Linked DNA regions of Homo sapiens: region 2 is linked to region 1. The links come from fine-mapping of genetic effects on gene expression. A gene starts in region 1. The other region holds a variant in brackets. All regions are shown on one strand. Distances are between the middles of the regions.

What was found. PIP is the estimated chance that this variant, and not a neighbour inherited with it, causes the effect.
Region 2: its variant is fine-mapped to the expression of ELOVL5 in whole blood (TOPMed, PIP above 0.99).

What each region holds. Positions count from the first base shown.
Region 1 is chr6:53,338,488-53,355,139 of GRCh38, forward strand. ELOVL5 (ELOVL fatty acid elongase 5) reads right to left here and starts at 10,463. Exons shown (of 8, transcript NM_021814.5): 1 at 10,330-10,463. It also overlaps the pseudogene RPL31P28. RefSeq lists a silencer at 9,864-10,303.
Region 2 is chr6:53,234,777-53,251,428 of GRCh38, forward strand. It overlaps LOC124901332 (a long non-coding RNA gene), which reads right to left. Exons shown (of 4, transcript XR_007059612.1): 2 at 10,765-10,836; 3 at 9,495-9,655; 4 at 9,269-9,368. It also overlaps the pseudogene HMGB1P20. Among named protein-coding and RNA genes, the nearest start is that of MIR5685, 34 kb to the right of the region's middle. The variant C/T (reference allele first, on the strand shown) is at 8,708.

The DNA.
Region 1 (16,652 bases):
CTCTGGAGAAGCTCAAAGGGCACCTGTTTCAAAGGGCAACTTCCTTCTTGGATGAAGCATCTTGTAGAGAAGACAATCAATGGCCAAGGTAGGTAACAGACACCAAGATACTACACACGCCTCTAATGGTTCCCTTAAAGCCTGAGCTTAAGCAGTCTGGGCTCTACTTCAATCATATTCTAAACATCTAAACCAAAAGACTGCAATTGCAAATAACAGGGAGACAAATATTCAAAAGGCTTTTAAGCAACATTTTCTGCTACAGGCAACTGCTGATGGTTCTTATCTGAGTGCAGTCTCTTAACTGATGTGATTACTTGAATATTCAAAATAAATTATCATTTGAGGAAATTATCAATTGAGTTCTCCAACCTAATTTGTGCAAAGTATACAAAGGCAGTGATACCTTAAGCTGAAATTAAAAGACGGTGGAGAAACATAATAAAGATTAGTTATGCAACCCCCCAAACGAAAATGTCTTAAAAGATTTTAATTCAAGCCTGTGTAACATAAATAAGGCATATAACACAAAAACACATTTCTTTTTTAAAACTCAATCTACACGCCCACATTTTATAACTGTTGTTTGGGTGTGAGGGTGAGTGAGGAGAGGGAGAAGCAAAGTTAAATGTGTAAAAAATGGGGGAAAATCCTGCTACAATACAGCATTTTTCAAAGGGACACACAGTCTAGCAACTGTGTATTCATCTCCTCTATAGCATGTCTCTGAAACCAACAGTTGTTTTATCACCTGTTCAGATTCCATGTGAATATATAAGCCACCCCATGAATTTTGTGATTCTCTTATTTTAGGAATGCTGATACTTATAGCCATTACAATGTTGCCAAACCTAGTGTCCCACACCCAGAAAGAAAACTCAGTTCTGAAAGAGTCTAAGGATCCTAAGAGAACTGAAGGTGGTGGCAGACTTGTCTATAGCCTGAACACCATGGCCCAGCACAGTGGCCCTTAATGGGGCCTTGTATCAAAATGACTTAATGTCATTCTCTATCAGAATGTTTTCAAAATATAGTCACGCATCGCATAATGACCTTTAAATCAACAATGGACCACATATACAATGATACTCCTGTAACATTATAATGGAGCTGAAAAACTCCTATTGCCTAGTGACATCATAGCACAATAAAACATTTGTGGTGATGTTGGTGTAAATAAACCTACTGCATAGCTAGACCTGTAACAGTATCACACATAAAATTATGGACAGTACATAATGCTTGATGCTGATGATAAAGAACTATGTCATTGGTTTATGTATTTGGTATACTATACTTTTTTATCATTAATTGAGTGTACACCTTCTAATTACATATTTTAAAAAGTTAACTATGAAACAGCTTCAGATAGGTCCTTCAGGAGGTATTCCAGAAGAAGGCATTGTTGTCATAGGAAATGACAGCTCATGTGTGTTACTGCTCCTACAGACCTTTCAGTGGGACAAGATGTGGAGATGGAAGACGGTGACATTGATGATCCTGCCCCTGTACAGACCTAGGCTAATGTGTATGTTTGTTTTAGTTTTTAACAAAAAAGTTTAAAAAACTTTAAAAGGAGAAAAAAAGCTTGAAGAATAAGGATACGAAGAAATAAAATATTTTTTTTGCAGCCATACAGCCTGTGTTTTAAGCTAAGTATTATTACAAAAGAGTAAAAAAGTTTAAAAAATTTATAAAATAGAAATGTTACAATAAGCTACAGTTTATGTATTAAGGAAGAAAAATATATATTAAAATAATACATATTTTTAAAAAAACTTTTATTATAAATAAGTAGAGATGGAGTCTTGTGATATTGCCCAGGCTGGTCTTAAATGCCTGGTCCCACCTCAACCTCACAAAGTGCTGAGATTACAGACATGAGCCACCACACCTAATCAAAAAATATTTTTTATAAACCTAATGTAGCCTAAGTATACAGTGTTTATAAAGTCTAGAGTGTACAGTAAAGTCCTAGGCCTTCACATTCACTCCCCACTCACTGACTTACCCAGAGCAACTTCCAGTCCTGCAAGCTCCATTCATGGCAAGTGCCCTACATAGTTGTATCATTTTTTATCTTTTATATTTTTACTATATCTTTTCTTCATTTAGATATACAGATACTTGCCACTGTGTTACAGCTAGCTACAGTATTCAGTACAGTAACTTGCTGTACAGGTTTGTAGCCTAGGAGCAATGTGGTATATCATATGCCCTATGTATGTGGTAACCATCTAGGTTTGTCTAAGTACACTCTATGATGAACACACAACAACAAAATTGCCTAAGAGTACATTTCTCAAAAAGTATTCCCATTGTCAAGCTATACATGACTTGTACGACTTGTACACCTGACTTACATTTTCACCCAAGGGAGATCAGGCAATCTGGAGATAGAGGCTCCCTAAAGAATGTGAGTGTCTTTCCCTCCCGTCTGCATTTCTCTGAGCGTATATACCTTGTAAATCAAACCAGATGGGGCTAGGACCGGGTAAGGAAACCAATGCTGGATGCCCTTGGCCAGTCATACTAATCCAGCCACACTAGACCAGTCAGGCTAGTGAACACTGACTCAACTGGGCTTTTGAACACTGATTTCTTACACTAACAATTGTAAGCTATTCAGTGTGTACGCTTCTGATTTTCCCCAAAAAAGAGGTTTAAGTTCAAAATATCTAAAATAAGGAGTAATGGAAGAAACAAACGGTCACCCTTTCAAGTATTGATCATAAATGTTATTCCCTATTAGCTTTCTTTATCTAAACCTTTATTTAGTTACTGTCAACAGAAGCTATATGTTGATTATACCGTCAGCCTCCCAGAATGTAACGATGAATAAGAAACTCAACCTTGTTTCCTCTCATGTATCTAAAGCTGCAAATACAAAGATCACTACTTAGGTCTGACAGGTGTACAGCACAGCAGGGTGGCCAAGATTAGAGTCTTTAAGCCAATCTGCCTGGGTTTGAATCCTGCCTCTGCCACCTACTAGCTGTGGATATTTGGACAAGTGACTTAACCTTTATCTTAGTTTCCTCATCTGTAAAATTGGGGTCCCTACCTCGTGGGCTTTTGTGAAGCCACAATGAATTAATACATGTTGAACACTTCAGAAAAGTGCCTATTATGTGGTACCAAGCAGCTATATTCAGTACCCATAGAACAGCTTTGTTCTCTTTAAAATTTGCAGAATATTCCGTTGCCCAGCTGTAGCATGATTTATTCTTTTCAAGGACATTTAGTCTACTAACTCTTCCAATCTTTTGCTATTAGAAACAATGCTTCAATAAACATCCTATATAACAGAGAGACGTTTTTACTATGCTAATTAAATTAAGTCAGTGCCCCACCTAACTTTCATGTACAATACTGATAGTTTTAATACCCTCCAAAGTAGGCACAGGATTATCACCTTCCAAGTTCTACATAGATTCTAGGGTCTCAAGGAGGTAGAGTGACTTACCTGCTGAAGCCCACGCAGCTGTTAAGTGGCAGAGGTGGAACCCCGCATAGGTGCAGGCTGCCAACCCAATCTGCTTCCCACAGCTGTCCTTACTTAAAAGAAGTACAGGAGGTATTCTTTTAAATGCACCTCAGATCCATCACAGAGATTAATATGCAGAAGTTCGGACAGAAGCAAACTCAAATTTTCACACAGATGCTTCTAACAAATACAGCTGATGGAGGCGTCAACGACTTCTGTAAATATTGAAGTATTATTTCTTCTGCCAAAGACTGAAGCAGAAGTACCCTGAATACTACCCCTAGGGAGATACATCACATTTCAAACTCCCCTGGAAGCAAATGAATAATTACTGAATTTGGTATCATGAGAACTATTCTTCAGGGAAGGAGAAATTCATAACACTCACTTTGTTGTAGCATTTGCTGTGCCAAGACCAAAGAGGAACAAGTACTACTCTGGGGTTCAGAAACTCATAAAACACAGACCTGAGTGGCCAATTCGCCAGCATGGCTTCAATTAGGTCTGTTCAGCATGGGCTTATAAGAGATTAATTCTGACAGGATGAAATTGTTGACATGAGGAAAAGGATGGGGTAAATGTGGAACTTAACAGAGATGGAACCTGTGCTCGCAAGAGGGTGCCTACCTAATATAACCATAAAGATTACAGTTTAAAATCACAGGTATATTTCAATAAAATTGTTATTCTCCCAATTAGAGAAAGCATGCCAGTATCAGCACTAAAAATCTTAAAATAAATCAGAAATTTTTCCCTAAATCCCAGTCAGCCAGCAGACATCAAATAAAAGGTAAAAAAGTCCAATCTAATAATAAGGAATACTAAGACATACTCATGCCTGAATGCAATTACAACTGTACTTCACACAGAACTGGCAGAAGAGGATGGAGGAGCAAGAGTGGGAATTTAGTCTTTCTAAAAGGTCACCAAGTATGAATATTTTAAATCCAGAGACTACACAATTCTAAAAGTGAATGCCTACAAGTCCACTAAAAATGTTACCATGGAGCAAACACGCCAGTGGGAACCAAAAAGGCTGGTAATAACATTTACGGGTTGAAACTGGGGTTGGTGGTGAGGGTTCCTATTGCAGAAACTGAAAATCAGGTCAGGATAGGCCAGAACATCTCCAGCAGTGATGTTTTAATCTCATAAAGAGAAAACCAGCAGCTTGCTGCTGCTGCTGCAATCTCCATCAACTGTTCTGACATTTTCCCTCCCTCCCTCCCTCCTTTCCTTCTTTCTTTATTTATTTTGGGACAGAGTCTGGCTCTGTCACCCAGGCCGGAGTGCAGTGGTGTAATCACGGCTCACTGTAACCTCCGCCTCCTGGACTGAAGTCATCCTCCCACCTCAGCCTCCCAAGGAGCTGGGACTACAGGCATGTACCACCACATCCAGCTAATTTTTGTATTTTTTGTACAGATGGGGTCTTGCCATATTGCCCAGGCTGGTTGCAAACTCCTGAGCTCAAATGATCTGCCCACCATGGCTTCCCAAAGTGCTGGGATTACAGGTGTGAGCCACCGTGCCCAGCCAACATCTACCTTTCTAAGATCTAAATGATCTCACTTTCATTCTCTATCCCTGGCCAAACAGAAACAAAACAAAAATAAAAAATAAAATTTGCTCTAGGCAAAAATGAAAATAAAATTTAATCTTTCATTTTAAAGGAAAAGAGACCAATGCTCAGAGTTGATTTTCTTCAAGTTAGGACAAGAAACCAAGGCAGCCAGATTCTATACAAGAATGAGGCACCCTACTTAAACAATCATGCCTTCCAATCTTCTCAAATTACTTCAGTTTTAATAAACACACAAACATGTATGTACTTTACTATAAACCTGTAACGTGAAGCTACATGTGTTTTAATAACTATCATGGGAGCAGAGGTAACCCAGCTGGTGGAAGAAGCCCAGAAGCCTGGCTCTGCCAGCATCTGGCTGCACCACCTTTGGTAACATTGGGGCTTTCCTTTTCTCACCAGGGAAAAGTGTAGGAGGCATCCCAATTCTGTAATATTAAAATGTGGAAAGTTACCTGCAGTGATTTTAAGATGCCACTGATTATAAGCTCCATCTCTACCCAGATGTGAAATGTGAAAAGCTGACAATAGATGAAATGTGGTAGAAACATGTTCTTGCAGAAAGGCAACCAAAAAAATAGCTAAGACAAAGGTTGGCCGTGAAGAGGAGGAATTGGAAGAAACAGCTAGTCTGGATATCTATCTAGGCTGTGGGGCTATTTCCATCTGATCACAAAGCTCCCTCTTCTCTTTGGAAGAGTATCCCTCCTCTTGCTGGCCCTCAAATCCAACTGGTCTTCAAGTCTTATCCTGGACACAGTCTCTCACAATTACCTCTCTCAAGTCTGTGCTCATGGCTGTGGCTTCAGGTCAGGCCTTTTCACTGCCCTGGCCATCTCTAACAAACCCACAACAATCCACCCTACACTCTAACAAGACTGTCTTTCTGGAGCACAGCACTCATAATGTCCTCATTCTTATTCAAAAGCTTATTGGTGGTATTCTACCAAACACCTTAGGAGACGGAGCAGGCCAGGGTGTCAAGGTGATCTGAGCTGGAATGCTTTGTGACCCCAAATCAAGTGTCTAAACTCTGGGCCTTTTTCCACCTGTAAAATGGGAATGCTGTAGCATCCATTAATAATAGAAATAAGTCCTTGTGAGGGGCTCAGTGCAAGGTCTGACATACAATAGCTCAGTAAGAGTTAGCCATTATTATTACATCAATAACTTGCCTTTCTCACCTTTTCTTCCACTCCTGCCTTCTAAACCAGCTTCTGCCAATTGTGCTATTTGCTTTTTGCCCAATGATTCCACACTCGCTTACTCTCCAAACTCCCTCTTGCCTAGAACGCATGTCCTCCTATTCCTGCCTATCAACTAAGAGTCCTTTACAAAATGTAAGGCTAAATTCTAATTTTAATTCAAGTCAATTTAGTTTAATCCAATCATCCATTCGGTCCTTAAAACAGACGCTGTAGCTGACTTCCTGTGTTCTGCAGGCCCTTCTTAAAGGTGAAGCAGCTAGCTGAGGAGATTTAACTTCACTTCCCTGGTTCTGGGATGGGCCCCCAGCTTATCAAATGTCCACTGTTCCAGTTATTGCTTCAAGTAACCAAGGCCTAAGTCAATCACCTTAAGGTAAAGGACTCTTTGGAGGGTGGCAGGAAGTCAGGGAATCCCCATGTGAGATTATGGTGGCAGCTGCTGTCAGTCATCTTGGAAAATCAGTCTAGGACATAACAGACATCTGAGGGGACTTCAGAGAAATGGAGCAAAAGTCCTGCCCTCAGGACTTTTCAGGTCAGATGCACAGGTAGGTCTCAGTTGGGTTTTCTGTTTCTTGCACCAAAAGCATCCTGACCAATTCAGGAATGCTAGGCCCTTAACATGGATAGCTCTGCCATAAAGCTTTCTCAGATATAAAGATATAAGTGTCCCAGAAATCTGCTTCTGACTCTCTTTTGGTCCAAGGTGTAGATTAAGTATGTGTATACAGGCTTAAAGTATATACTAAATCAGGAAACCCTCTGGAATCAGGAACTGTTGTAATTCATTTTTGTATCCAGCCCCTCACACCCAAAATCAGTAACTGAGAAGTCAATGAATTAATTTAAAAAATGAATCAAGTGTGGGCTACAAGGAAGGGAACAGATTTTAGACAGATTTAAGAGACAATAAATTGTTAGTCTTGGATGGATTAACAAGAACCTTTAAACACAAGGTTAGATTTTTAAGTTGTGGAGTAACAGTGTTACATAATGGCACAGAGCCCACTGGGCAAATAATCCTGGCAGCACAGGGATATATGAAGGAGCAGAGATGTTGCAGGAGACAGAGCTATAGGAATTTGGACAAGTCACTTGTCATCTCTAGGCCTTAATCCTAGAGATTCTTTTTTATTTTTCTTCCACTTTAAGTTATGCGATACATGTGCTGAACGTGCATGTTTGTTACATAGGTATACATGTGCCATGCTGGTTTCCTGCACCTATCAACCCATCATCTAGGTTTTAAGCCCTGCGTGCATTAGGAATTTGTCCTAATGCTCTCCCTCCCCTTGCCCCCCACCACCCGATAGGCCCGGGTGTGTGATGTTTCCCTCCCTGTGTCCATGTGTTCTCACTGTTCGACTCCCACTTATGAGTGAGAATATGCAGTGTTTGGTTTTCTGTTCCTGTGTTAGTCTGCTGAGGATGATGGTTTCCAGCTTCATCCATGTCCCTGCAAAAGACACGAACTCATCTTTTTTATGGCTGCATAGTATTCCATGGTGTATATGTGCCACATTTTCTTTATCCAGTCTATCATTGATGGGCATTTGAGTTGGTTCCAAGTCTTTGCTATTGTAAATGGTGCTGCAATAAACATACGTGTGCATGTGTCTTCATAGTGCTCCTCAATTCTTAAAAAACAACTGGGGGATAAAACCTCACAGAGGTGTTATAAGAATTACGTGTGGAAAGCAACCGTTTATGTACATGTGCGTATTAATAAGTACCTGACACAGAAAGCATTCAAGGAAAGACTTATTTACAGGTAACTAATGAGAGGATTAGCCTTTTGATAACAGAAGAGCTGGTAGGCAAAGAGGAGGAATTAAAAAAAAAAATTACAAAATCTTTTAGGAGAGAAGAATGTAGCCAGGAAAGCAAGAGGTAAAACTCTCTCTTCACACTAACTACCCACCTAGGCACCAAAGTTACCCTCAAGAAAAGTAAACAGTTTTGCTTTGATTTGTGTAATTCAAGCTGGAAATAAGACACCCAAGGATGGATGCTCACCTCTAGAAGCAGGAAGACAAGCAACCATTATGCAGGGAGCAAAAGAAGAGGTAGTGGAAAAAAAGATTCTTGCAAACAGAACATCCAAAAATTAAGGTCTGTAACCAAGAAGAAGCTGTTGATTTCAGGGAATGGGAAGGAAACATTTTCAAACCACCATTTGGCAGACTCAATGCTGGGCTCTCATTTGCATTATCTCTTGAAATCCACAATGATCCTGCCACATAAAATCCCCATGTATAGACAAGGAAATTGAGTCAAGGAGGTGAGGTCAATATCTGAAGTTACAAGATATTTTTCTTGAAAAACATCAAATTTTAGTAAGCCTTCTACTGTCGCTTTTCAGCAAAGTTCTGTACTACATTCTGTAACATTACCTATCTGTAACTATCAATAAAAATTTCCCCTTTGTCTTCAATTAGAAATAGAAACGAAAATGCAAAAAGAGAAACAGTACAGAAAAAGTTCCTGGCAATAAGAAGTTAGAATCTAGGGTAAAAATCTAAAAGGAAAATGAGTAACATTTCCCTTTCAAGTGCAGAGCTTTCCTGGAGAATCCCAGGCAGTGTCTGAGCTACCAGAAAAGTAACCCACTTGTCCCCAATCACAGATGGAAGGCTAAAATGTTTGTCCACGGCCATCTAATGCAAAACCGCCTGTTTCTATCTGTAGATTCTGCACGAAATGCTTTTGGCTGAGACGTGCAAGCAAAACAAGTGCAGACCAACAGGTTATCTGCCAAGCGGTTAGGAGAATGAGTTACAAAACCTGACAAGCAACATCAGCTCTTCCGTACAATTCTATGAAGCACTTCCTGCCACGGGTCCCGCTATTTAAAACAAATTAGGCTGCTCGCTCCCCACAAATCCCATCTAGCACCTCTCGGTTCCTCAGTCTAGCTAATAAACCATGCACTGGATTCTTCCGAAAGAGACCCCCCGCCCCCGACCCCGCCACCTCCGCCACTTTGCATAACTGGCCAAATGCATTCTCCAAATTTGCAATCAAGGAGCTTAATTCACAATTGTGGATGGGGCGGGGGGAACCGCCAAGTGCAAGAACACGGAACGGTTGCAAGACGCAGTTCAGCAAGAACAACTCTTGCTCTAGGCATTGCTCCGTCGACCCGAGGTGGTGGGGTGGGAGAGTCTTACCGGCGTGGAAACAGTAAAAAGGCACTTTTCCTTACAACTCGCAAGACAACACACACTCTAGCTCCCCCGGCGCAGAGCACAACCGCCCCCCCGCCGCGCGCCTCCCTCGCAGCCAACCGCTCCCGCCTCTCCAGGGATCAGGCTCCCAGAAAGGGCCGCCCCGGTCGCCCCCGAGTCCCCGCCCTCTCGCTTTCCCACCAGCCTCATCCCTCCCTGAGTACCAAGGGCTGCCGTTGTCTGGTTTCAATAAAAACTGAAGCGGTCCCGAGCTAGCAGGCTTCCCTCCGAGGGGCGGACGGAAGGTCCGCAGGGTTAACGGAAGCGGAGAGAACAGGACAAAAAGGAAAGGCCGGAGAGTCCCCCCAGCGGCGCCCGGTGCCCGCAGACCCTCGCACAGGCTCTTCGAACTCACCCGGGTTTCGCCGACTCCAAAGAAAGCGCGCTCCCTCCGAGAGCGCTCCCCCGGCTCTCCCGCCGCGCGCTCCGGCCCGCAGGGCGGGAGGACCCAGGCGGACAGATCCATCCCTCCGCGTCTGGTGTGGGCACGGTGTCGTGCCCCGCGGCGCCTGTCAGCGCGCACAGGTGGGACCGCAGCACAGAGAACGCTCCCGAGCGCCCTGCCTCAGCCTCGGCGTGGGGCGAGCCGCCCGCGCCCGCACCCGCACCCCTTTCCCCGCGCCCGAGGAGCCGGGCTGTACCCCGGAGCCGGCGGAGCTGGAGGCCGCGGGCGGAGCGCGGGTTGCCCCGGCAGCTCTTTCTCGGCACCAGGTCCGAGACCTAACGGCAGTTCTCTCTGACCGCTTCCCGGCCGCGCGCTCGCGCGGGTGTCATGGCCGAGCGGCGGCCCCCGACGAAGTTTCCCGGAGCTGACGGCTTTACCTTTTAGCCCAAGGGGCGGCAGCAGCTTTGAGCAGCAGCAAGGCGGCGGCGGCGGAGGGAGCGCGGGTGGCAGCCGGCGCAGAGGCGGATGTAGAAGGAGACACCGGTGGCTAGGACCCGCGCGATGGGAAGAGGAAGGCGCCGGCTATCTACAATCAGAACGTGGGCTGACCGTGACGTCACAATGGCGCGGCCAGCCAATCGGGACCCGAAGGATGAATCAAGCGCTATGATGTCATGCGGCCCGGGAGCCAATCGCGGGACAATAGAACTTTCGTGATCGTAAATTCCAGAATCCGATGCGGTGGAGAGCCTAGGCCGGGGTTGGCCCCTCGGTTCCACGTGTCTCTGGGAAATTTTTTTCCCCTTTCTTCCTAATAAGCCTGCGTGGAACGCAGAGCCTGCGCAATAGCCCCGGTGAAGTTGTCGATGCCCTGAACTCTGGTTTTTTTACTGCCAGGCGTGGCAGGAGTCTGTGGCCGCATTTGGGTGGCAGAAGCCCACCCTCGTTACGGTCTCCTCTATGAGTTATGTCATGCTGAAGGGGATCCACTTCATCGTTAAAGCTGAAAGGGTTAAATGCCCACGGAGACCGCCGGAGTGAAGGTCTGCAGTTGAACAAGATAAAGGAACAAGAACAAAACGACTCAAAACTGTTGTAACCATAACTCCCTTGCAAAGGATTTACCGTGTATTTTTCTTAGGGATTCTGATTTTTCTTTGGAAGCCACTATCAACTCCATTTCTACTCTAGAAATTATTCTAAAGGATTGTTAAATGAGGAAAGATGGAATCAGTGTCTTTTCAGCTAAGCATATTTAAGCACTTAAGACAAAGGGGGTTCAGGGCATAAACGGAAGATCCTTGCTGTTTTTCACTGATATTTGGATAATTAAAGACCTTCATTAGCTTTGTATCCTACTGTTTCCCCATTCAAACCCCAGAGATTTAGCCTTTCTTCGTGTGCCCCTCTTGCTGTATTCTTACTCCTCTATGTGCATCCACCTAACAGTCGGCTATTTAATGTAGGCAAATTTATTCTTTTTTTTCTTTTTTTTTCTTTTTTGAGACAGAGTCTCGCTCTGTTGCCCAGGCTGGAGTGCAGTGGCGCGATCTCAGCTCACTGCAACCTCCACCTTCCGGGTTCAAGCGATTCTCCTGCCTCAGCCTCCCAAGTAGCTGGAATTACAGGCACGCGCCACCACACCCGACTAATTTTTGTATTTTTAGTAGAGATGAGGTTTCGCCATGTTGGCCAGGCTGGTCTCGAACTCCTGACCTCAGGTAATCCGCTCGCCTCAGCTTGCCAAAGTGCTGGGATTACAGACGTGAGTCACCGAGCCTGGCCGGCAAATTTATTCTTTTACATATTTACAATGTAATGCTTATCACGTGCCAGCTGTGTTCCAGGCAGTGGGCCATTGCAATAGGAATGCAAGTATACAAACCATGTACAAATTAAGTAAATTAAACATATACAAAGAATCGAGATTGTCAGTTGCCATTGAGCTCCACAAACACTGAATGACTTCAATTTGCTAGATACTATGTTAGGTATTCAAAATTTGAAACCTTCAAGGACTTCTTGGGCCTGGAAAATGATACAGTCAGGAAGCAACTACAATGCAGAGTGGTAAATGCTGCTATGGACATCAAGGGACATGAGAAAAGCATATGCTGGTGGCATAGACTATTTTTTTGAGATATCTCCTTCATTCTTCACGCTTCTGCCAGTAGTCCAAGGCCAGGGTTCATCTCTGTCATCCCATCTAAGTTTTGCCTTTCCAGGTTTTAAAAGTTTCTAATTTAACTTGAGATTCCAAAAGTCTTAAGTTTTACGCCGCACTTGTTTGAATTGTGCTTACCTATCAATAAAATGTTTTAAGCCCATTTGACCAAAATATCTTTAAGTTCAGGCTTATATAACTGTCAAGCTATGCATTAAATATCAAGTGATTTTTCTTATTGTATGATTAAGTATGACGTTTTGCTGTTTTTTCCCATCCCCCAAAGGCTGCGTTTTTACACAGTTCTTTGTTGATGTGTGTATCTTGGTTTCCATTATAGCATCACCACCCTGTATTGTAGTTGCTTTCTGATGGCATCATCTCACTCAATCCTTGGGGTATATGTACCCCACTTTAAAGACCACCGCTTTAGGTAGTAAACTCCGTTGAAGGGGAAAACATGTTGAATTTTGCTCCTTATTGATCTGTAGATCTTAGTACAATCCCTGGCATATAAGGGCTCAATAAATACGTGTTAGATGAGTGAATCTGTGAACAGTTACTCCCCCTCACCATCACCATCACTTTTCAGCTCCAGAGTTCCAATCCTCTGTCAGATAGTCACATCCCAGGATTATTAGATTATTAACTCCTCTCAAACATGTTGGTACGGTCATGTTCTCATTAGTTCTCCAGCCAGAGACTTAGAGTTCTCAGAACATATATATATATGCAAATGTATTATTTTACATATTACAATGTAATGTTTATCATGTGTCATATATCTCTGGGGGAAACTTCCTCCCACCCTAACAATTACTTCGTATTTCTGCATCATTGCACTCATGAGTAAAGCTGTAAGAAAAACAGTGGAGCCGAAACGACTCCCCAACTTAACTGTGGGATTTTTTCCAAATAAATCAAAAGAATACCTAGGATCCAATGCCAGGCTTACTAAATAACAGGGCTCAAGGAACCTGTTTTAGGTAGCATCAGAATCAGATTCCTGGCCAGCTGGGTTCTGGAAACTGTGCTGAAGCCATCCTTGCCCTTCTAACCCACCTATCCAACAATGTGAGCCCATGTAAGGTACAGTTAACAAAACCTTGTAACTATTACCTGTTTGTTCATAGCATCCACATGGTAGTCCCCCAAGAAATGATTGTTGAATTATCTTCATTCAATAGCTAACTATTAATATTTTCTTCTTTCTCCTTCATGTATTTATTTATTTATTTATTTATTTATTTTTGAGATGGAGTTTCGCTCTTGTTGCTCAGGCTGGGGTGCAATGGCACGATCTTGGCTCATTGCAACCTCCACCTCCCAGGTTCAAGCAATTCTCCTGCCTCAGCCTCCCAAGTAGCTGGGAGCGCCCGCCACCACACCTGGCTAATTTTTTTGTATTTTTAGTAGAGATGGAGTTTCGCCATGTTGGCCAGGCTGGTCTTGAACTCCCGAACTCAGGTGATCCACCCACCTCGGCCCCCTAAAGTGCTGGGATTACAGGCGTGAGCCACTGTGCCTGGCCTTCTATTTGTTTTTAAATTCTGGTAATATTTTTCCTTTTGCTCTTAGTTTTCATCATTGAGCTCAAATCTCCTCAAACCACACACTTCTAAGTGTATTAGAAGGTTGCTTCAGTATTGCTTTTGAAAAGGAAAGTACTTAACATCCTAGGCAATTTGTTTTATTGTTATAGCAGCTGCAGTTGAATTAAAAAATACAATTGGAACTTTCATTAGAATACAATTCTGATTAGTGAAACTTGTTTCATTAGGACGTATTTGCATGACATAATGAAACACATCCTTCCAGAAAAGATATAAGCCAATGTTTGCCTCTGGACATATCAAAGTTGACTAAAATATAGGTCAAGTAGCAGCTATTTTATGCTAAAGATGACACTGCAGTCTCTGTTGGTTCCTACGTTCTCCGCCTCCCCCCACAATCCTTTTTTCTTCTGTTCTAATTTGTGTTTTCTATTATCTTGCTGCCCAGAATTCCCACAGGCCACCTGGCTTGTCTTTGTCGGAGGCAGAGGTAGATTAAAGGCAGTTTCTTGTCCTCCTCAGACCTTGGAGTCAGTTCCATACTTCAATTGTTACTTTGCTATTCCTTTTCTTCATTGCTGTTCAACAATATGTCCTGCAGTTTATCTCTGTCCTTGTCCTTGAGTGTTCATCTTGATGAACATGAACTACTTGAAGACACTGCCCATGCCTGGTCTGCTATATTGTTTTCTTAATGACTAGCAGAATTTCTGGCAAATCACAAATGTTCATAAATATTCGATTAATGAATGAACAATTTGTACAATTTCTGGATTCTCTAGATTTTCTTCTCCACTTCCTTTTACACTCTTTAGTACTGTCTCCAGAAGTGACTGGGCAATGAAAGAGATCTGCATCCCAGTCTTCTGTATCCACATTTCCTTTGCAGGTGATATCATCCCCTTTCATGTGTTTGGATTTCATCTATGGTCGGCTGACTTCCAAGTGTATTTCTCCAGCCCACACATTTTCCCTGATTTCCAGACTTACGTACTTAACTACTTATTAATGACTTCTCTAAATGAGATATATTCATAAATGAGATATCCAAAAGACATCTCAAATTAAGCATAACAAAAAATGAACTCTTAACTGGCCTTCAAACCTGATCTTCCACAGTAGTCCCCAGATTTGTAAATGACAATTCTATGGACCCCGTTTCTCAGATCAGACACCTTGGAGTTACCTTTAGCTCCTCTTTTTTTCTCACCTACTACATCCAGTGCATCAGCAACACTCTACTACTTGACCTTTGAAACATATCCAGAATGTGTTTGCTTTTTACCATCTCCAACATGACCACCTGGTTTAAGTCACTATCAACCATTGCCTAGAATGTTGTAATGGTCTTCTAACCAGACCTCTACTTCTGTCTTTGCTGCCTACAGTCTATTCCCAAACCAGGTGCCAGAGTGATCCTTTTAAAACCAAAGCCAAATCACGTCACATGTCTGCTCAATGTCATCTAGCAATTTCTCATCTCCCTGATAGTAAAAGTCAAAATCTTTACAATGGCCTATAAGATCCTTCATGATTTTGCAACTTGCCATTTCTCTGACTTTAAACAGCTACTCTGTCTTCCACCCACAATGGCCCCAAGAAATATCTTGAGCACACCAAGTACTAGACTGCGTCAGGGCCTTTGCATTTACTCTTTACCTCATGCCTAGAATAATCTAACCCAGAAATCTCCAAGACTTACATCCTTGCTTCATGCTGGTTGCTACATCACTGTCATTTCCTTAGGGAGTTCCCCTGGATCACTCCCTTTAAATTTGCAACACCTCCCTCCCTGCCTTTCACACTCTGGAACACTTTATGTTTCTCCTTAGCACTTAACATTCTGGCATAGTATAGATTTACTTTTTAATATTTGTGTATTATCCCCACAGCCCCATAAGCTCATTGAGGACACAGACTTTGTTCTCTTCACCACTGTTTCCCCAGCACTTCGAACACTACCTGGCACTTGGTAGGAGCTCAACAAATATTTACTGAATTGGTAAAGGAACAAATGAATTAATGTAAAATTGAAATGCAAGTCAATAATATATGTTTTTACTAGGTATCATTTGACTAAAAATTAAGTCAAAGAGAAAGAAAACACTAACTACAATAGTTTTAAAAATATTATCTGAGTATAATTTTTCTGTTCCCTGTTACAGTAGATACAACAAATTTCTCCTTTTGCCTTTCTGAAATTTTAAAATGTGAAAAATTAACATGCTCCAAAGGAATATTTAACATTTTTAAAGTGCTATTAAAAAGACTGTAACTATACTTTTAATGAAAACAAAACATTATTTAGTCTGAAATTGCTATGAATTTGGGATATCTTACCCTTTCTATGCATGCATCAGTTATCTTGAATATCAAGCACTTTCTCTTGACATAAAAACTGTTATATTTATTTCAGTGATGAATCCAGGTTCGTAACAATTCTTTCCCTTATGCTTCCAACATTATAATGAGACAAACAAATTGAGCCACAGAAGAGTTAAATGACATGACCAAGGCTGCACAGCCAGTTAGTGCAGAATTAGAATTTAAATTCAAGTATCAGTTCTCCCTTTCCAACTTGGACGCGGCAGAACGGCTCCTGCAAAGAAGGGTGGCGAGAAGCAAAGGGTCATTCTGCCATCAATGAGGTGGTGATCCAAGAATACACCATCAACATTCACAAGCGCATCCATGGAGTGCGCTTCAAGAAGCGTGCCCCTCGGGCACTCAGAGAGATTCCGAAATTTGCCATCAAAGAGGTGGAAACTCTAAGTGTGCGCATTGATAGCAGGTTCAACAAAGCTCTCTGCGCCAAAGGAATAAGGAATGTCCCGTACCGAATCCGTGTGCAGTTGTCCAGAAAACGTAATGAGGATGAAGATTCACCAAATAAGCGCTATACTTTGGTTACCTATGTACCTGTTAGCACTTTCAAAAATGTGCAGACAGTCCATGTGCATGAGAACTAATTGCTGATCCTCAAATACATCAAATAAAGGTATAAAACTGCAAAAAAAAAAGTCTCGGTTCTCAACTTCTTCAT
Region 2 (16,652 bases), 100 kb before region 1:
CAGCCTGACCAATATGGAGAAACCCCGTCTCTACTAAAAATACAAAATTAGCTGGGCGTGGTGGTGCATGCCTGTAATCCCAGCTACTGAGGAGGCTGAGGCAGGAGAATCACTTGAAACTGGGAGGCAGAGGTTGTGGTGAGCTGAGATCGCACCATTGCACTCCAGCCTGGGCAACAAGAGCAAACCTCAGTCTCAAAAAAAAAAAAAAAGGAAAAAAATTTGTATTTACTTAGAAGCATTCAGAATGTCAACAAAATGTCAACAAAACAGCTGCAACTTTTTTTTTCAATTATAGAGTGGTATTCAGTTAATGGAACAACAATTATTTGGTATAAGCTGCATCAGAGACAACTGAAGATGAAAAAAACTACCATCACCATGTATAACTAATTTGCGCTGTGCACCAAAAAGAACCTGTTTGAAATTTTCATGCCAATTTACAACCCCCATACTTTACCAGGCAAGGTTAGTGGTTATTGAAAATACTAGCAGGGCATGGTGGCGTGTGCCTGTAATCCCAGCTACTCAGGAGGCCGAAGCAGGGAAATCGCTTGAACCCAGGAGGCAGAGGATGGAGTGAGCCAAGATGGTGCCATTGCACTCCAGCCTGGGTGACAGAGGAGACTCAGTCTCAAAATATAAAAAGAAAAAAATACCACCAAGACATCGCTATCTAAAGAAACATTTCGGTAATGTGTTAATTATACAAAAAAATAGAATGTATGGTTTAAAAACAAATTTTACACAGCCTTACATTTCATTTTTTTTCTTTAAAAGGAGTGAGTTGTGTACAGGCGGGCTAAATGCTTTACAGACAAGAAAAAAAAAAACTAGAACCAACTTATTCATTATCATTGTCTTCTTCATCTTCATCTCTTTATCTTCCCCCTCCTCACCCTCTTCATTTTCCTCAGCTTCCTCCTCTTTTTCTTGCTTTTTTTCAGCCTTGACAACTCCCTTTTTTGCTGCATCAGGCTTTCCTTTAGCTCGATATGCAGCAAGACCCTTTTCGCATTTTTCCTTCGGCTTTGCAGCCTTCTTCTCCTAAGGCTGCTTGTCACCTGCAGCAGTGTCATTCCACATCTCTCCCAGTCTCTTCGCAGCATCACCAATGGACAGGCCAGGATGTTTTGGGCAATACTCAGAACAGAATAGAAAAAAAGGCTGAAGGAGGCCTCTTGGGTGCCTTGGGATCCTTGAACTTCTTTCTTGTCTCCCCTTTAGAAGGGATATAGATTTTCATTTCTCTTTCATTATGGGCCTTGTCCGCCTTTGCCGTATCTTCAAATTTTCCTTTCTCTTTAGCAGACATGGTCTTCCACCTCTCTAAGCACTTCTTAGAAAACTCTGAGAAGTTGACCTAAGCATCTGGATGCTTCTTCTTATGCTCCTCCTGACAAGTTTGCACAAAAATGCGTACGATGACATTTCGCCTCTTGGCTTCTTAGGATCTCCTTTGCTCATGTTGAGTAATTTTTCCTCAGTGAGGCACAGAGTCGCCCAGTGCCTGTCTGGCTTTCACTTTCCCTGGTGCTGTCTCTATCGAGAGGATAATAATTTAAAAGTTGTAAATAAGCATGTCTTATCCTTCAGTTCTCTAAAGCAGGTTTTACATGAAATCTGAATCTGACTGAGAATGTTACTGTTCATTCTTTTCAAAGTTCCAAGTAGACAAGCCACAAAAGCAATTTCTCAGTTTCTTTGGTATGGCTCATGCAAATAAAAACTGGTGGCTAAGACCTAAAGAACAGTTTTAATCTCTGAAATACCGATGACTTCAGGCAGAAGCACAGATGGGTAGGAAGAGGGAGGCAAGGGGAGAGATTTCTCTCCCATGATCATGTTGTCCCAAAAAGGGTCCTTGTGTACAGTTTATAAGGTCACATGTTGACACAATGGTTGTTAAGACCTTGATGAAAAGAGTCAGAGGAAGCCAGTGTGAAATACTCAATGACATATCAGTGGTGAGGCCTTGAGGCATATAAAGAAGGTCATCAAAGTTTGCCATCTCTTTTATCTGCTCTTGCCCACCTCTGCCTAGATGTTACAAATGAAGGAAATATTTGTTGAGAATATATTTATCTGAATGCACTACGTGAATAACGAGAATGTTGGAAGAATGTATGACGGTATATATTGGCTCTTTCAATATTAAGGACCTCGTATAGTCCTTTACTAATCTTAAGGCTTGTCCAAAAAAGATTAAACAAATACACAAAAACAGCCTCCTCCCTCCTACAGTAAACCCAAATAAATCTGATCAGCTTGAAATTATTTCTACAATAGCTCTCACGGCTATCAGGATTTAGTCTGATCTCCTGGCAAAGCCAACCCAGCCCCGCATGAGCCCCCGACCCTCTGCCTCCATCCTTCTCATTCCCCCCGCTGACCCCACCCCCGCCCCCCGCCATGTTAACTGTGAGGTCCTTGACATGCACGCTCCCGCCTCACACCTCCAAGCCTTTCTTTCTCCTGTTCCCTTTACCTCCATGTCTGTCTACTCTCACCTGTCCTTCCACATTTAGTTCCGACATCACCTCCTCCTGAAGGCTTTCCTGCACTGTCTCCTTGCTCACACCAAGACTGGTGCCTCGCCAGTGTGTGGCCATGCATGCTGTCCAGGACTCCAGCACAGGGTTCTACTGAATGGAAACCTTTTTTCTTTTCCTGTTTACTGTTTCTTGTTGTTGTTGTTGTTGAGAGAGTCTCGCTCTGTCACCCGGGCTGGAGTGCAGTGGTGCGATCTCAGCTCACTGCAGCCTCCATCTCCCTGGTTCAAGCGATTCTCCTGCCTCAGCCTCCCAAGTAGCTGGGATTACAGGCATGTGCCACCACACCCGGCTAATTTTTGTATTTTTAGTAGAGATAGGGTTTCACCATGTTGGTCAGGCTGGTCTCGAACTCCTGACCTCAGGTGATCCACCCACCTTGGCCTCCCAAAGTACTGGGATTACAGGTGCGAGTGACTGCACCCAGCCTCCTGTTTACTGTTTCTTTTCTCGTAATACAAAACCTGTCGGATAGTAAGTGTTTAATGTACATTTGATGAATGAATGGTTTAATCAGAGTTTGTTTCTAATCTTGTTTCCAGCCCACATTAGCTTATTCACCTGTGTGCAAAAGTGGATGAGGACAAATAATTGTTAAATCGTTTGCTTGACTAAGAATGTTTTACTGATAGCAAGTTGGCAATCTGAAAATTAGTGGGAGAAGTAGTGATGGGTACTGAACAGACTGCCAACTTAGATTCTGATTATCTGCTGTGAATCATTTCTTTAACCTTTGAAAGCTTTTAAAATTATTTTTCTGGGTATAATAATAATGTGGCTAACTAAAAATAATGAAGATCATGTTTATTGTAGATGTGTGCTAAACATCCATGTTTTCATCCAAGTGCTACAATTGCAACCCCCACATTACCTCCTTTCCCCACTCTGCCTACTCCTAGCATACATGCGGGCATGCGTGCATGCACACACACACATACACACACACACACACACACCCCTAGACTAAACCTTACCAGATTTAGTCTGGTAAGACACATTTCACCACATTTCCAAAGTTATAATGGATCTTGGAAGGGAAAGCTATGGAAAACAGTGATAGAAACATACTTATCACACAGCGATAGAGCTCCCTTTTGATCTCTTCAAACAAGACAAGAAACAAAGAGCGAAAATCATCTGAGAATTCAAAACTGCTGGACTATTCCCATTGCACCGAGTCATGTGGATCTGTGTCAAGTACACAATCAGTTGCAAGTCAGCTGATAGACAGAAAAGAGTTACTTCAGAAAGATAATCTCAGGGAGCTTATTATACTCCCTTTGAAGTAATGAGTCCAGTGAACTTGAACTGGAGACTTGAAGTCTCTGATTTCTGCTGTCACTGGAAAGGAATTACTTTTTCTTTTTTTTGAGACAGAGTCTCACTTTGTTGTGCAGGCTGGAGTGCAGTGGCGCAATCTTGGCTCACTGCAACCTCTGCCTCCTGGGTTCAAGTGATTCTCCTGCCTCAGCCTCCTGAGTAGCTGGGATTACAGGTGCGCACCACCACGCCCGGCTAATTTTTTGTTTGTTTGTTTGTATTTTTAGTAGAGATGGGGTATCACCATGTTGGTCAGGCTGGTCCCAAACTCCTGACCTCGTGATCTGCCTGCCTAGGCCTCCCAAAGTGCTGAGATTACAGGTGTGAGCCACCATGACCGGCCAGGAATTACTCTTGACAATTTTCTATGTAATTTATTGGAGAATGACAAAAGTGGTTGAAAATATTATTAGCTGGAATCTTGGCCTGTGTTGGTAAACAACAGATAAAAAGTTTTAAGGGTGGAACTTGCAAGTCTAATTACACAACATTAAAAATAAGTCTCCATATCAAACATAATTAGTAGATTTCAGATGAACTTGAGGAACTATTAGAACAACTTACCTAAAGCAGTTTTGTTTCTCAGAAAAATGACGTTATAGATCTGGCCTAGAATTTGGCATAGAAACTTTTCCTACAAGGTATAATGAGAAACAGAATCAAAGCAAGAGTCTTAAGACTCAGTCTTAGTTCTAGTTTGGTCTTTGTGATCCTGGCCAAGTCACTTCAACATGAACTTGGTTTTCTATGTCTACAAAGTAAAAGGGTTGGGCTACTATCGCTGCTGTACTACTACTACTGATCTATTTGTGCTGGATTATTCTATATCCAGATAAATGAGGCCAAGTGTTTCTGGCATCACCAACCACCATTTAAACAAATAGCATCCCCTCCATAGGGGAGGAGGCTGCACACATCTGCTGCTCTCCACCCTGAGAATGTGGATGAATTCCAATCAGCAGCCACCACCTGACTGATTTGCCCACAGCCTGCTCTGGGTCCATTGGCTGGGAGGCTTCTGGAGGCAGCTGGGTCATGTCATCCCAACCCAAACTGGTGATGTGAAAGAACAGTCACATGTGTGAGCAGGTGCATAACCCATTCTCAGGAGGGAGAATGGAGTGAAGGAACAGTGGTTTAGGTAATGACTCATTCAGGTTATTCATTCTGTGTGTAAAGCCCAAGGCCCTCCAACTGGCCCTGACCTACCTGCCCCGACTCTTCTGCTTTCCCGACACCTTCTCTGGGCCTCTATTGCCCTTCTCGCTAGTGCAGCTGGCCCCTTGATGGCTTATATAGAAGATAATGTACCTAAGTCATTCGTCACCCCAACCCTTGTGCATAGGTTTTCCTTGTTGCCAGAACCTGGATTTTGTTCAAGGGTGTCCCCAGCCCTATGTGATCAAGTGAAGAACTCTTAAGCTTCATCCCCAAAGGAAAACTGATCACTATGCTCCCATTGGTTATTGGCCTAAGCCAATCACTGCACTCCCATTGATAATCGGTCTAAACCAATAACTGTGCTCCCATTGGTCTAAACCAATAACAGCGCTCAACTGCGCTGTCTGTATGAGATGCTTGCAATGCTGCTGCCATCTTTTGAAAAAGAGAATGATCAGCTGACAGGCTGAGTGAGCAGAGAAATGAAGAGAATCATCTGGGGCCTGAGTGAGATCACTGGGCTGCTTTGTTAATCTACCCTAGATGCTCTCTACATCTTGAATTCTTGTTATGTGAAATTACAATTTTTTTCTTACTGTTTGAGTCAGAAGCCCAAGGTATCTTGCTATTTTTCACACTGGCACACTGGAGAGGCAACAAGAAACCCCAAGTGGGGTTAGTGGAGGAATCAGTTCCTCCACTTAGAAGCCATTACTGAGGAACAAATTACTTCAAAATTTAGTGGCTTGAAATAACAATAAGCATGTATTGTCTCTGTTTCTGTAGGTTGCAAATTTTGGATCTTTTTGAATGGGAAGTCTGGCTTAGATTCTCTCCTCTCATGAGACTGCAGATGGGTGTGGGCTGGGGCTGCCCTAATCTGAAGGTTCAACTGGGGCTGGTGGGTCTGCTTCCAAGGAGGCCCACTCACTTGGCTGGCCAATGGGGGCTGGCTGTGGTGGGAGGCCTCAGTTCCTCTCCATATGGGCTTCACCACATGGTACTTGAGTGTTCTCTGTTTAAAATATAGGTTTTATTAATATTTAGGTATGGCAAAGCCATCAGATCAGGAATGACTGCTAATAAAAAGATAGTTTGTTATGCTCACAGATCTCAAGAGGAAGGGGTGTGTCACACCAGCCACATGGGGAAGTACCAAGATCAGTCAGGAGGCAGAGGGAGCAGAGTGAAAACAGGGGCACAAACTTTTTTTTTTTGAGATGGAGTCTCGCTCTATTGCCATGCTAGAGTGCAGTGGTGAGATCTTGGCTCACTGCAACCTCTGTCTCCTGAGTTCAAGTGATTCTCCTGCCTCAACTTCCCGAGTAGCTGGGACTACAGGTGTGTGCCACCATACCCAGCTAATTTTTTGTATTTTTAGTAGAAACGGGGTTTCACTGTGTTAGCCAGGGTAGTCTCATTCTCCTGAACTTGTGATCTGCCCGCCCTGGCCTCCCAAAGTGCTGGGATTACAGGCGTGACCCACCGCGCCTGGCCAGGGGCACAAACTTTTATTGTGGTTTCTGTGGGAAGGAATGAGTGAGGGAGGGTAATTGGGCTTTGGATTGAATAGTTTGAATCATTTCAGCAGGCTCTGGGCCATACGGGCTATCCCTAGTTGCCTAGTTCCTACTCCTGGGGTGATTAGGGCAGGTGGATAGTGGCCTGGAGGGTGAGAGCCCATAATGGAGGTGGCAGTGTGTGGGCTCTGGATTGATTGGTTTACATTTGTGACGCACCCTCATGGTTGTTTGCTATTTCTAAAAACTGGCTAGTCCTGGGACAGGCATAAAAATACAAAAATAAAAGACATGGTAAATACATTCTCACAGCATGGTGCTGGCTTTGCCCAGAGTAAGCAATCCAAGAGAGCAAGACAGATGCTGCAAAGTCCTTTATGCTCTCAATTCAGAAGTCACATATTATCCCTGCTGAACTCTACACAGACCAGTCCTAATTCAACATGGGAGTAGACTATGCAAATAAATACCTAAGAGGTGAAGATCACTGGGGGCCATCTTGGAGGCTGGGTATTACACATCTGGCAAGTTCCTTGACCTCCAAATGTCAGTGTCTTCACTTAAAAAAGATGGCAATAATATTATGTTACTTTGACTTCTAAGTTGAAAGCGAACAGAAAGTGACTCTGGCTTGCTTAGGCAAAAGAGGAATTTATTGAATCAGTTTTGGACAATTCACACAATAGAAGGGAAGGCTATAGAACCAGGCTTAGCAGAACCTAAGGGAGCTCAGGGAGCAGGGAAAGTCATGCAGGGCAAAGCCTCAGGGTTGGTCTGGTTGGGAAACTGATGTTGACATCAACTGCACTGGCCACCGGATATTGTGGCCAGAGCTAAATGCTCAGCACCACTGCTGCTGAGCAACTCTCAATCGCCTCTGTGCCCTGAAGCTTCCACAGTGTGGGGAGAGTGGAGAAAGGAGGACCAGGTCCCTTCTGCTTCTGGGATTACAGCATATGTCCGCTACAAATATGGGCTTCATGGGATTCACCAAAAATATATGAGCACCTTCCTTGGAAAATCGAGAATGCTCAGTAATGGTTGGTTGCTTAATAGAAAGGAGAAAGCAGATACCGTGGGATGGAATAGAGTGAGTTTGGAGATCTCAAGTTGAGAGTGAGAATAAAGCATGCTCATTACATTTCCAGCCACACTGAGCATTTCTAATCGCACTCTTACCTTGTCTTCACTCCTATGCACATTTGCAAATTCTTAAATTGCTGAGATTTGTACAAATCTTATCTATATACTCTATCCAGTGAACCAAGTTGGAGGCAAGGGAACAGTATGTTATTAAGAAAAGGTAAAGTGAAAGCCTCCTGTGAAAATTGCAATACTGGCTGGGAGCAGTGGCTCATGCTTGTAATCCCAGCACTTTGGGAGAATGAGGTGGGCAGATTAATTGAGGTCAGGAGTTCAAGACTCCTGCTTGGGCAACATAGTGAAACCATGTCTCTACTAAAAATACAAAAATTAGCCAGGTGTGGTGGCGCACGCCTGTAATCCCAGCTACTCGGGAGACCGAGGCAGGAGAATCGCTTGAGTCCAGGTGGCAAAGGTTGCAGTGAGCTGAGATCACACCACCGCACTCCAGCCTGGGCAGCCGAGTGAGACTCCATCTCAAAGCAAAGCAAAGTGTAGAGAAAAGAAAATTGCAACACTAGCCTCTTGGTACCTTGACATGAACCACAATTAACCACACTCTTTAAGTGGTGGTAGCTTCCATTTCTGTCACTGTTACCTTCATAGTACTTTTTTTTTTTTTTTGAGACAGAGTTGCTCCTTCTGCTCACTGCAACCTCCACCTCCTGGGTTCAAGCGATTCTCCTGCCTCAGCCTCCCGAGTAGCTGGGACTACAGGCACATGCCACCATGCCTGGCTAATTTTTTGTATTTTTAGTAGAGACGGGGTTTCACCGTGTTAACCAGGAAGGTCTCGATCTCCTGACCTCGTGATCCGCCCACCTCGGCCTCCCAAAGTGCTGGGATTACAGGCGTGAGCCACCACACCTGGCCCCTTTATAGTACTTCTATCTCAGTTTGAATTTCCAAGGCAAAGCCAGACACCTTTTCTCACAAAGCCTGTGCTCTGTTGTTAGGTGTGGGCATGAGTCTTGCTGTTCAAACTCAACTATTTCATTCAAAGTGACCTTT[C/T]GTGGGTTTACAAATTCATTGAGGTTGAATGTGTAACTAAATTCTAAAATGTTAGTTCTAAACTAAGTTCTAAAATGGTTCTAAAAAGTTCGTATGTAAGGAGCACCAGGAGGGCTTGCTGAAACACCAGTTGCTGGGCCCCACCCCTGGAGTCTCAGGTTCAGCAGGTCTAGGGCGAGGTCGGAGGATGTGCACTTCTAATACGTTCCCAGGTGGTGCTGAGGCTGCTGGTCTGGGGGCCACATTGAGAAACACTGACTTGAATGACTTGATGCTGTTGCTGGCCTGCTTTGTAAACTTCTTAGACCCTATCCAGTAATTGCCTTTCTTTTCTTTTCTTTTCTCTTTTCTTTTTCTTTTTTTTTTTTTTTGAGACAGAGTTTCACTCTTGTTGCCCAGGGTGGAGTGCAATGGTGATATCTTGGCTCAGTGCAACTTCCGCCTCCTGGGTTCAAGTGATTCTCCTACCTCAGCCTCCAAAGTAGCTGCGATTACAGGCATGTGGCACCACACCTGGCTAATTTTTTTGTATTTTTAGTAGAGACAGGGTTTTACCATGTTGGCCAGGCTGGTCTCGAACTCCTGACCTCAAGTGATCCACCCATCTCAGCCACCGCACCCAGCCAGTAATTGCCATTCATAAAGAAAGCCAAGATGACACCTACAGAGCAAAATTATGTGATATTCAGGAATAAACACTGAAACATTATTTTGATTAGAATAATAGCTGCACGGAACAGAAACTTAGCTATAAGAGCTTAAGCAAATAACAGTTTGTTTTTCTTACATTCCCAAGAAGACTAGAAGCTGTGATAGGCTGGTGAAATGACTTCACCTCATCAGGGGTCAAGGCTCTTGCTAACTTTCTCTTCTGTCATCCTTGGTAAATGATCTTTGTCCTCATGGTCACAAGATGGCTGCTGCATCTCCATGTATTGCCTCTGCACTCTAGGCAGGAAAATGAATGATGAAGAAAAATGCATGTATGAGCTTTTCTGAAAGTCCCTCTAGAGACTTCTGTTCCCATCTCATGGGTTAGAACTATGTCACATGGCCACACCAAGCTTCAAGGGAGCCTCAGCACTCATTGACCCACATAAAATGGGGTTCCCGTCGATGAGAAAGGAAGGAAGAATGGGTGGTAATCAGCAGGCTCTGGGATGCACTCACCTGCTTGACTCCCAAAGGGTCACATTGCGTACTCAGGCCAGAGCCACCTACAGTGCTAAACCAGCCACGCAACAAGTGAAAGGGACAGAGAAAAGACATGAAGCCACTTCTGTACTAGCATTTCTTGCCTCCTGCTAATGGGTGTTATATGAAAAGGGAAAACTGAACTAGAACTTCTTTACTATAGACTTCTGAGAAGTTTTATTAAGCTTATGTATGTGATGACATTCCAAGGCAGGAACAAACATACTGCATTTTCCAAGCTTATTTGACCACAGAGGCTTTTTAAAAATTTTTCTGGAGCATCTCTCTGAACTACATTCCATGGAAATTTTTGCCAGAAAACCTTGATATATACAGTGTCAACTATCAGTGTGTTTTTTAAGACTCCTTACGAGAAAAAAAGCCAAGTATGTTCTTCTTACATCAGTGAGATAGTTCTACTTTTTTTAAGGGGAAGGAAATGAAAATAGGAACAGTTTGTGAGTCAGGGCGGGGGGTGTGATACCAGCCTGCCACCTGAGAACCATGCAACCTTGACAGGCCTGGTGGCCTCCCTAGAGTCTCCTGTGGTTTTTTTTTTTTTTTTTTTCTGTGAGACAGAGTCACCCAGGCTGGAGTGCAGTGGTGCGATCTCGGCTTACTGCAACCTCTGCCTCCCGGGTTCAAGTGATTCTCCTGTCTCAGCCTCCAGACTAGCTGGGATTACAGGTGCGTGCTACCACACCTGGCTGATTTTTGTATTTTTAGTAGAGATGGGGTTTCGCCATGTTGGCCAGGCTTGTCTTGAATTCCTGACCTCAGGTGATCCGCCCCCCCTTGGCCTCCCAAAGTGCTGGGATTACAGACATAATCTACCACGCCCGGCCAGAGTCTTCTGTTCTTACTTGCAAAACAAGATCTGTAGGCAAGCACCAGGATGCATCCCAATAAACCAAAATTCTGCAACTTCACAGCTCCTAGAAAGATCAAGAAGGGATGCCTGAATCAATCTTTGGTAATGGGAGATAGAGGATATATGCCCTCCTGTTGGGCGACAGAGTGAAACCCCGTCTCAAACACTGGAGATGGACTCTCGGGGTTTTGACATGTTGGCCAGGCTGGTCTTGAACTCCTGACCTCAGGTGATCCGCCTGCCTTGGCCTCCCAAAGTGCTGGGAGCACAGGTGTGAGCCACCACACCAGGCCTGGTTCTCCCCTTTTAAGGGCTCATGCATTCTATTAAGCTCACCTAGATAATTTAGGATAATCCCCCCATCTCATCACATCTGCAAAGTCCCCTTTGCCATATAAGGTAACATATCTACAAGTTCTAGGAATTAGGACATGGACATCTTGGGACTCATGGGCATTCTGTCTACCATGCAGATGAAATCTATTGTTTAAAGAAGTATAAACAGTGTTGGGAAACTGAAGACTATAACAAAAAATTCAAATTAGGCTTAATAGTATGTGAGACAAGCAGTACAAAAGGTAGAGAAGGTTTATGTGAGAAAAGAAAAGAAAAAAAAACCCAAGAAAGGAGATCAATTACAATACAAGCAAAAGTAGGACAACACTAGTTACGAGCTGGAAGCACGTGAATCCTTTAAGAGCCCGAGCAAAGGGCAAAGGTTTAGTATGGGATTGTTGGAGTTTCTTTCTATTATATATTGTACCTTCACCAATAGAACTAAAAGTCTAAAATCACACTATTTAAAAACCGAGAATGTATCAGCATTAACCAGATTGATCCTACAGGCGCTGCTTGACTTTCAGGTGTGGAGGTGGTAGGAAGAGCCACAGAATGGCCTGAAATAATTGCAGAGCTCCAGTGTTTGAAGAATGTATAGGAACCTGGTGAGGTGAAGGCACCCGTGCCTTTGCTTAGTGGCTTCAGGATGTGGAATAAAAAGGAACATGACATCTACATCCAGGTGAGAATTAGGCTTGGGACAAAGGGTGGTGAAGTATTAGTCCAAAGGTCAATAAAAGAGTAAGAATCACATGCAAGTAAAAGGATCCAGGCAGAGGGTGTGCAATAAGAATTTCTCAGTCCTGGTCCTGTTGTCATTGTGAACCACATAATTATTTGTTGTGTGGGTGTCCCGTGCATTGTAGGCAGGTTAGCAGCATCCCCGGACTCCACCCATCTGATGCAGTGGCACCCTGCCCCAGGATGTGACAACAAAAAATGTCTCCAGGCCTTGTCAAATGTCCCCAGGGGGAGGAGACAAAAATCACCCCAGTTGGGAACCACTGGTATACACTGAAAGAATAGGTAAGGGGACACAACACACCAAAAAGGGGGAGCCTGCAAGCCTGGAAAGAGTCTTTGAGGCTGCAAGGACACAAAAACCGAGGGAACCTTGTAAGGGGCCTGTTGCTGGAGCTGGTGGGCTGGCTGGGAGCCACCAAGAGCATCCAGCTGGTTTGCATACTGGCCTGTAACTTGGCCAGGGCAGGATCCAGGTCAGAAGAGCTCAAGTCTAATTCGTTCAGGGGTTGCACTCTGGTTGTTTTCCATTTGTTATGCAAGCACAGGTTTCAAAAGGCAATTCACCTGGGCAGGGGATATGCTTGCTTGCAATATAAACAGCTTGGAACCTATTATCTTACATGGTTGTTTCACTTCATCTAGGTTCACTGTCTGTCCTCCTGACCCCTGATTTGTAGAGGAGGGAGGAAACAAGGATGGTGGAGAGACTTGGATGCAAGTAGTGCCACCTCCAGCCTTTACAAGTGCCGTTAGGAGAATTAGAAAAGGTGCATCTCTGGCTGGATGAATTAGGAAAGAATGTCCCCTCAGGGAGGATCAGGAGTGGGGCTAGGCTAGGAGAGTGGATGGCACCTTATCTCCAACCCTAGCTGGGAGCGCAGAGCTGCGTGTCAGCGCCCCCATAGTGAGTACCTGCAGAGTTCCTATGGGAGCAAGCCTCCACCATGCACACTACATCTTACATAGCCTGTGAGGCAGAGGCTTACTCATGTAAACCTTGAGGGGCAGACATGACATATGGGGCCTCCGAGCTCTGAGGGGTACTAAACTTTCTTACCAGCAGGATTAGAATTTTAGTATGACACATGGTGAGAAACAAAGGCAATTGATTCTGTAGGAATGAGTGTAAGGTGGCTTAAGAATATTCTAAAGGAGAAAAAAGCAAAATGGACAGCTAGGAGAGACTGTGCAAAGTCGCTTCTGTGCATCTGGCCTGATGAGCATATTCATTGATAAATTTAGGACCTAGGTGATCAACAAGAGCACTGCACTTTTGCAAGTGAGGGCAGACCTCTAAAATTCCTTCTAAGGTTCAAACACTAATGGCCCAAGGCTATTAACTGCATCTAGTTCAGGGGATGTGTTCTATAAAGTAAATCATGATCTGCTGCATAAATTCCTATGCACTGGATGTTGTAGAAAAATCTTCCTTTGATGACCTTGGAAGACTAGACATGTTAGCCCTCTTTCTACAAGGGCAAGGAAGGTATCATGCAGCCAAAGGACAGAGAAAGATTCTAAGTCAAGAAAACGCCCATTAAGTGCAGATGTGTCCACGTTATAGTTGGAGACCTTGAACCATAGGGTCAGACTAACCCTAACATTGCAGAGTTGCAGAGGGTGAGAGTGTGAATGGAGACCTACACAACAACTGTCTAATTTTGTTTCTTTTGAGACAGGGTCTTGCTCTGTCACCCAGGCTGGAGTGCAGTGGCGCAATCACAGCTCACTGCAGCCTCAACCTCTTGGGTTCCAACAATCCTCTCATCTTGGCCTCCCAAAATGCTGGGATTACAAGGATTAGCCACCACGCCCAGCAAATGTCTAATATTTAAATAAACTTTCTTCCATCTTTGTACTTTGTCAAATATACTTTCATAGCAAGAAAATGGGGGAAAAGTGAAATTTACGGTTTTTATATGACTGAAAGTTTGCAAAAACAAGAAGAAATAACTGGACTTCATTATTACATGCCTGTAGGTGTTCTGTTAATGGGCTGACATGTGTGAATGCATACTGAAGACATATACAATTCATGCATTATATATTTATCCATAAAATTAATGTTTCTTGCTTTCATTTCAGGAAAATTACAATTATGTTGTTATAATCAATATTTTCACATAATTTGTGTTCTATTAACAGTAATACCTAATTAGATTACCTTTCTTGAATCTTAGTTTTTCTTTTCATTTTTTCAAGTTTCCATTAGAAGCTGCTCGGCAGAGGCAGTAGCAATTGCAATTGTCATTAAAATTCTTAAAGCAACCCTTCCATTTGGAAATGAATCATGAATTTTATGTCAGTCATTATAATTGGGTTGCATATGGTATATTGCCATTATCACAGGGACTATCACAAAATAGTTTAATTTCATCCCATAAATTACTATCACTTACATAATGATTTTCAAGATTTCTTATAATAATGTCTTAAAAATCTATACCTATATAGTTTTGTGAAGGGTTGCTATCACGTTTCATGCTTACATGTGCAGACCTACATATACACACCTTTAAGACTAACATGAAGGCTGGGCACGGTGGCTCACGCCTGTAATCCCAGCACTTTGGGAGGCGGATCATGAGGTCAGGAGTTTGAGACCAGCCTGGCCAACGTAGTGAAACCCCGTCTCTACTAAAAATACAAAAATTAGCCAGGCATGGTGGCATGCACCTGTGGTCCCAGCTACTCAGGAGGCTGAGGCTGGAGAATCACTTGAACTCAAGAGGTGGAGGTTGCAGTGAGCCAAGATCGTGCCATTGTTCTCCAGCCTGGGTGACAGAGTGAGACTCCGTCTCAAAAAAAAAAAAAAAAAAAAAAAGACTAAAGACTAACATGAACTGTTGTGAATATTGTGCTAATTGATGAGTAACTCCAGAATCTTAAATTGGAACATGAAGGGAAACAAGACTCTTGCATTCAGGCTGAGAGGAAGATTTTGGAGAGCTGTCTTTCCTCTTACCAAGGAGCTCCTGTTACCCCAGTTCTCCTCACTCCCCAAGGCAGTGTCTGTGTCTGATGCCAGCAGAAGTACAACCTACAAACCATCACAGCTCTGGATGTCATTACCTTTTGTTTGGAGAACACGGGGCAGAAGATTTAGAGGTCCCCTGGCACCTAAATGATGTTAGTCATGACTGGTGTTCAGGGTTACAAGTTGCACTGAGCCAATGGTGAATGTGAAGTGACCGAGGACCTTCTAAAGTGAGGGTCCAGGACCCCCTACCCTAGTCCTTGAAGGCCAATGCTGCACCCCTTGCTAAATAACCATACAAATATTACTATAGTGGATTGAATGGTGTCTCCCATTAGAATGTCCACATTCGAATCCCTGGAACTTATAAATACAACCTTTTTTTGGAAAAAGAGTCTTTACAGATGTGTTAAATTAGGAATCTTGAGATAAGCTCATGTTGGATTATCTGTGTGGGCCCTAAATTCAATGACAAGTGATTTTATAAGAGACAGAGGGGAGTCGGAGAAGAGGAGAAGGCCATATGATTACAGGGGCAGAGACTGGAGTGATGCAGCCACAGGCCAAGAATGAGAGTCAAGTTATAGCCTTCGGAGGGAATAGGCCCTGCCCATAGCTTGATATTGGATTTCTGGCCTCTGGGACTGTGAAATAATAGGTATCTGTTGTTTTAAGCACCAAGTTTGTGGCAATTTGTTACTGCAGCCACAGGCACTAGGGCTGATGATAACAGTGACTAATAACCATGAGCATTTACCATGTCATTTAACAGTGACTAATAACTATGTGCCAGGCCCTCTGTGAAGCCCCTTTTACAAGCATTATCTCATTTGAATCTCACAACAGCCTCATAAGATTGGCGTGATTATTTACCCCAATTTACAGATGAGGAAATTGAGGTTCAAATGGAGCAAGCAGCTTGCCTGAGGCCACATGGCTAGCAAGTGGCTGAGCTGGGATCTGAACCTAGATCTGTGTGACGGTAAGACCTACTTGAAGCACAGGCTGAAGCCTCGCTGCCTGGTCACATATGGAGCTGTTACAGACAAGCCCTATTCTTGGTGGTTCCGGGTTGATAGTTCTGTGTTCTTTGGCCCCCTACTTAAACGGTGGTTCAAATATTTTAGCACTTGCCCCCTCAACCTTCAGCTCTGTACCACCCCTCAGAAGTGATACATAAATTATAATCAACCATTTATCTAACTCAGAAGACCAAGGGAAAACTTTCCTTGCTATAAAGAAACATTTTAGCCATGCTTAGTCACATACAGTTCTTTGCAGCTATTTTGCCTCTGGGTCATTTGGGTTTATTTGCAGATGTTGCCAAACGAATCAGAAATCTTGGGAAACGGTCTTTGGAGAAGGACAGCAATCAGAATGATTTTTTGTTAGTTTCTTCTCCCAGGAGAAACCTTTATAAAGTCAGAAATAAGTTTGTTTTCTTAAGACTTAAAATATGTTCTCTGAGCTCATTAAACTATCAGAACGTGAAGTCTAGACTCTGGTAATAGTATGACTTAGACAGGATTTCTTTCCTTGTCTATCTTTGTCCAGTCTACTGGGGACTAGAAGAGATTGTTCTTTATCTGCTGGCCAGCCCAAAGACTGTGTGTGTGTTTTTGTGTAAGTGTGTGTGTATGGGGGTTCTGGATGAGGTGGTTACTTTTATTTTGTTATCCTTTATTTCTTTTCTTTCAAACTAAATCTACACCCCATTTTACAGGTGGAAACATTGAGTGTTTTGGTGACTGTAAACAATTTTCTCCATGGCGACTCAACTATGCAGGCTTATTACAAATGCTGTGCTTGTCTTCTCAAGA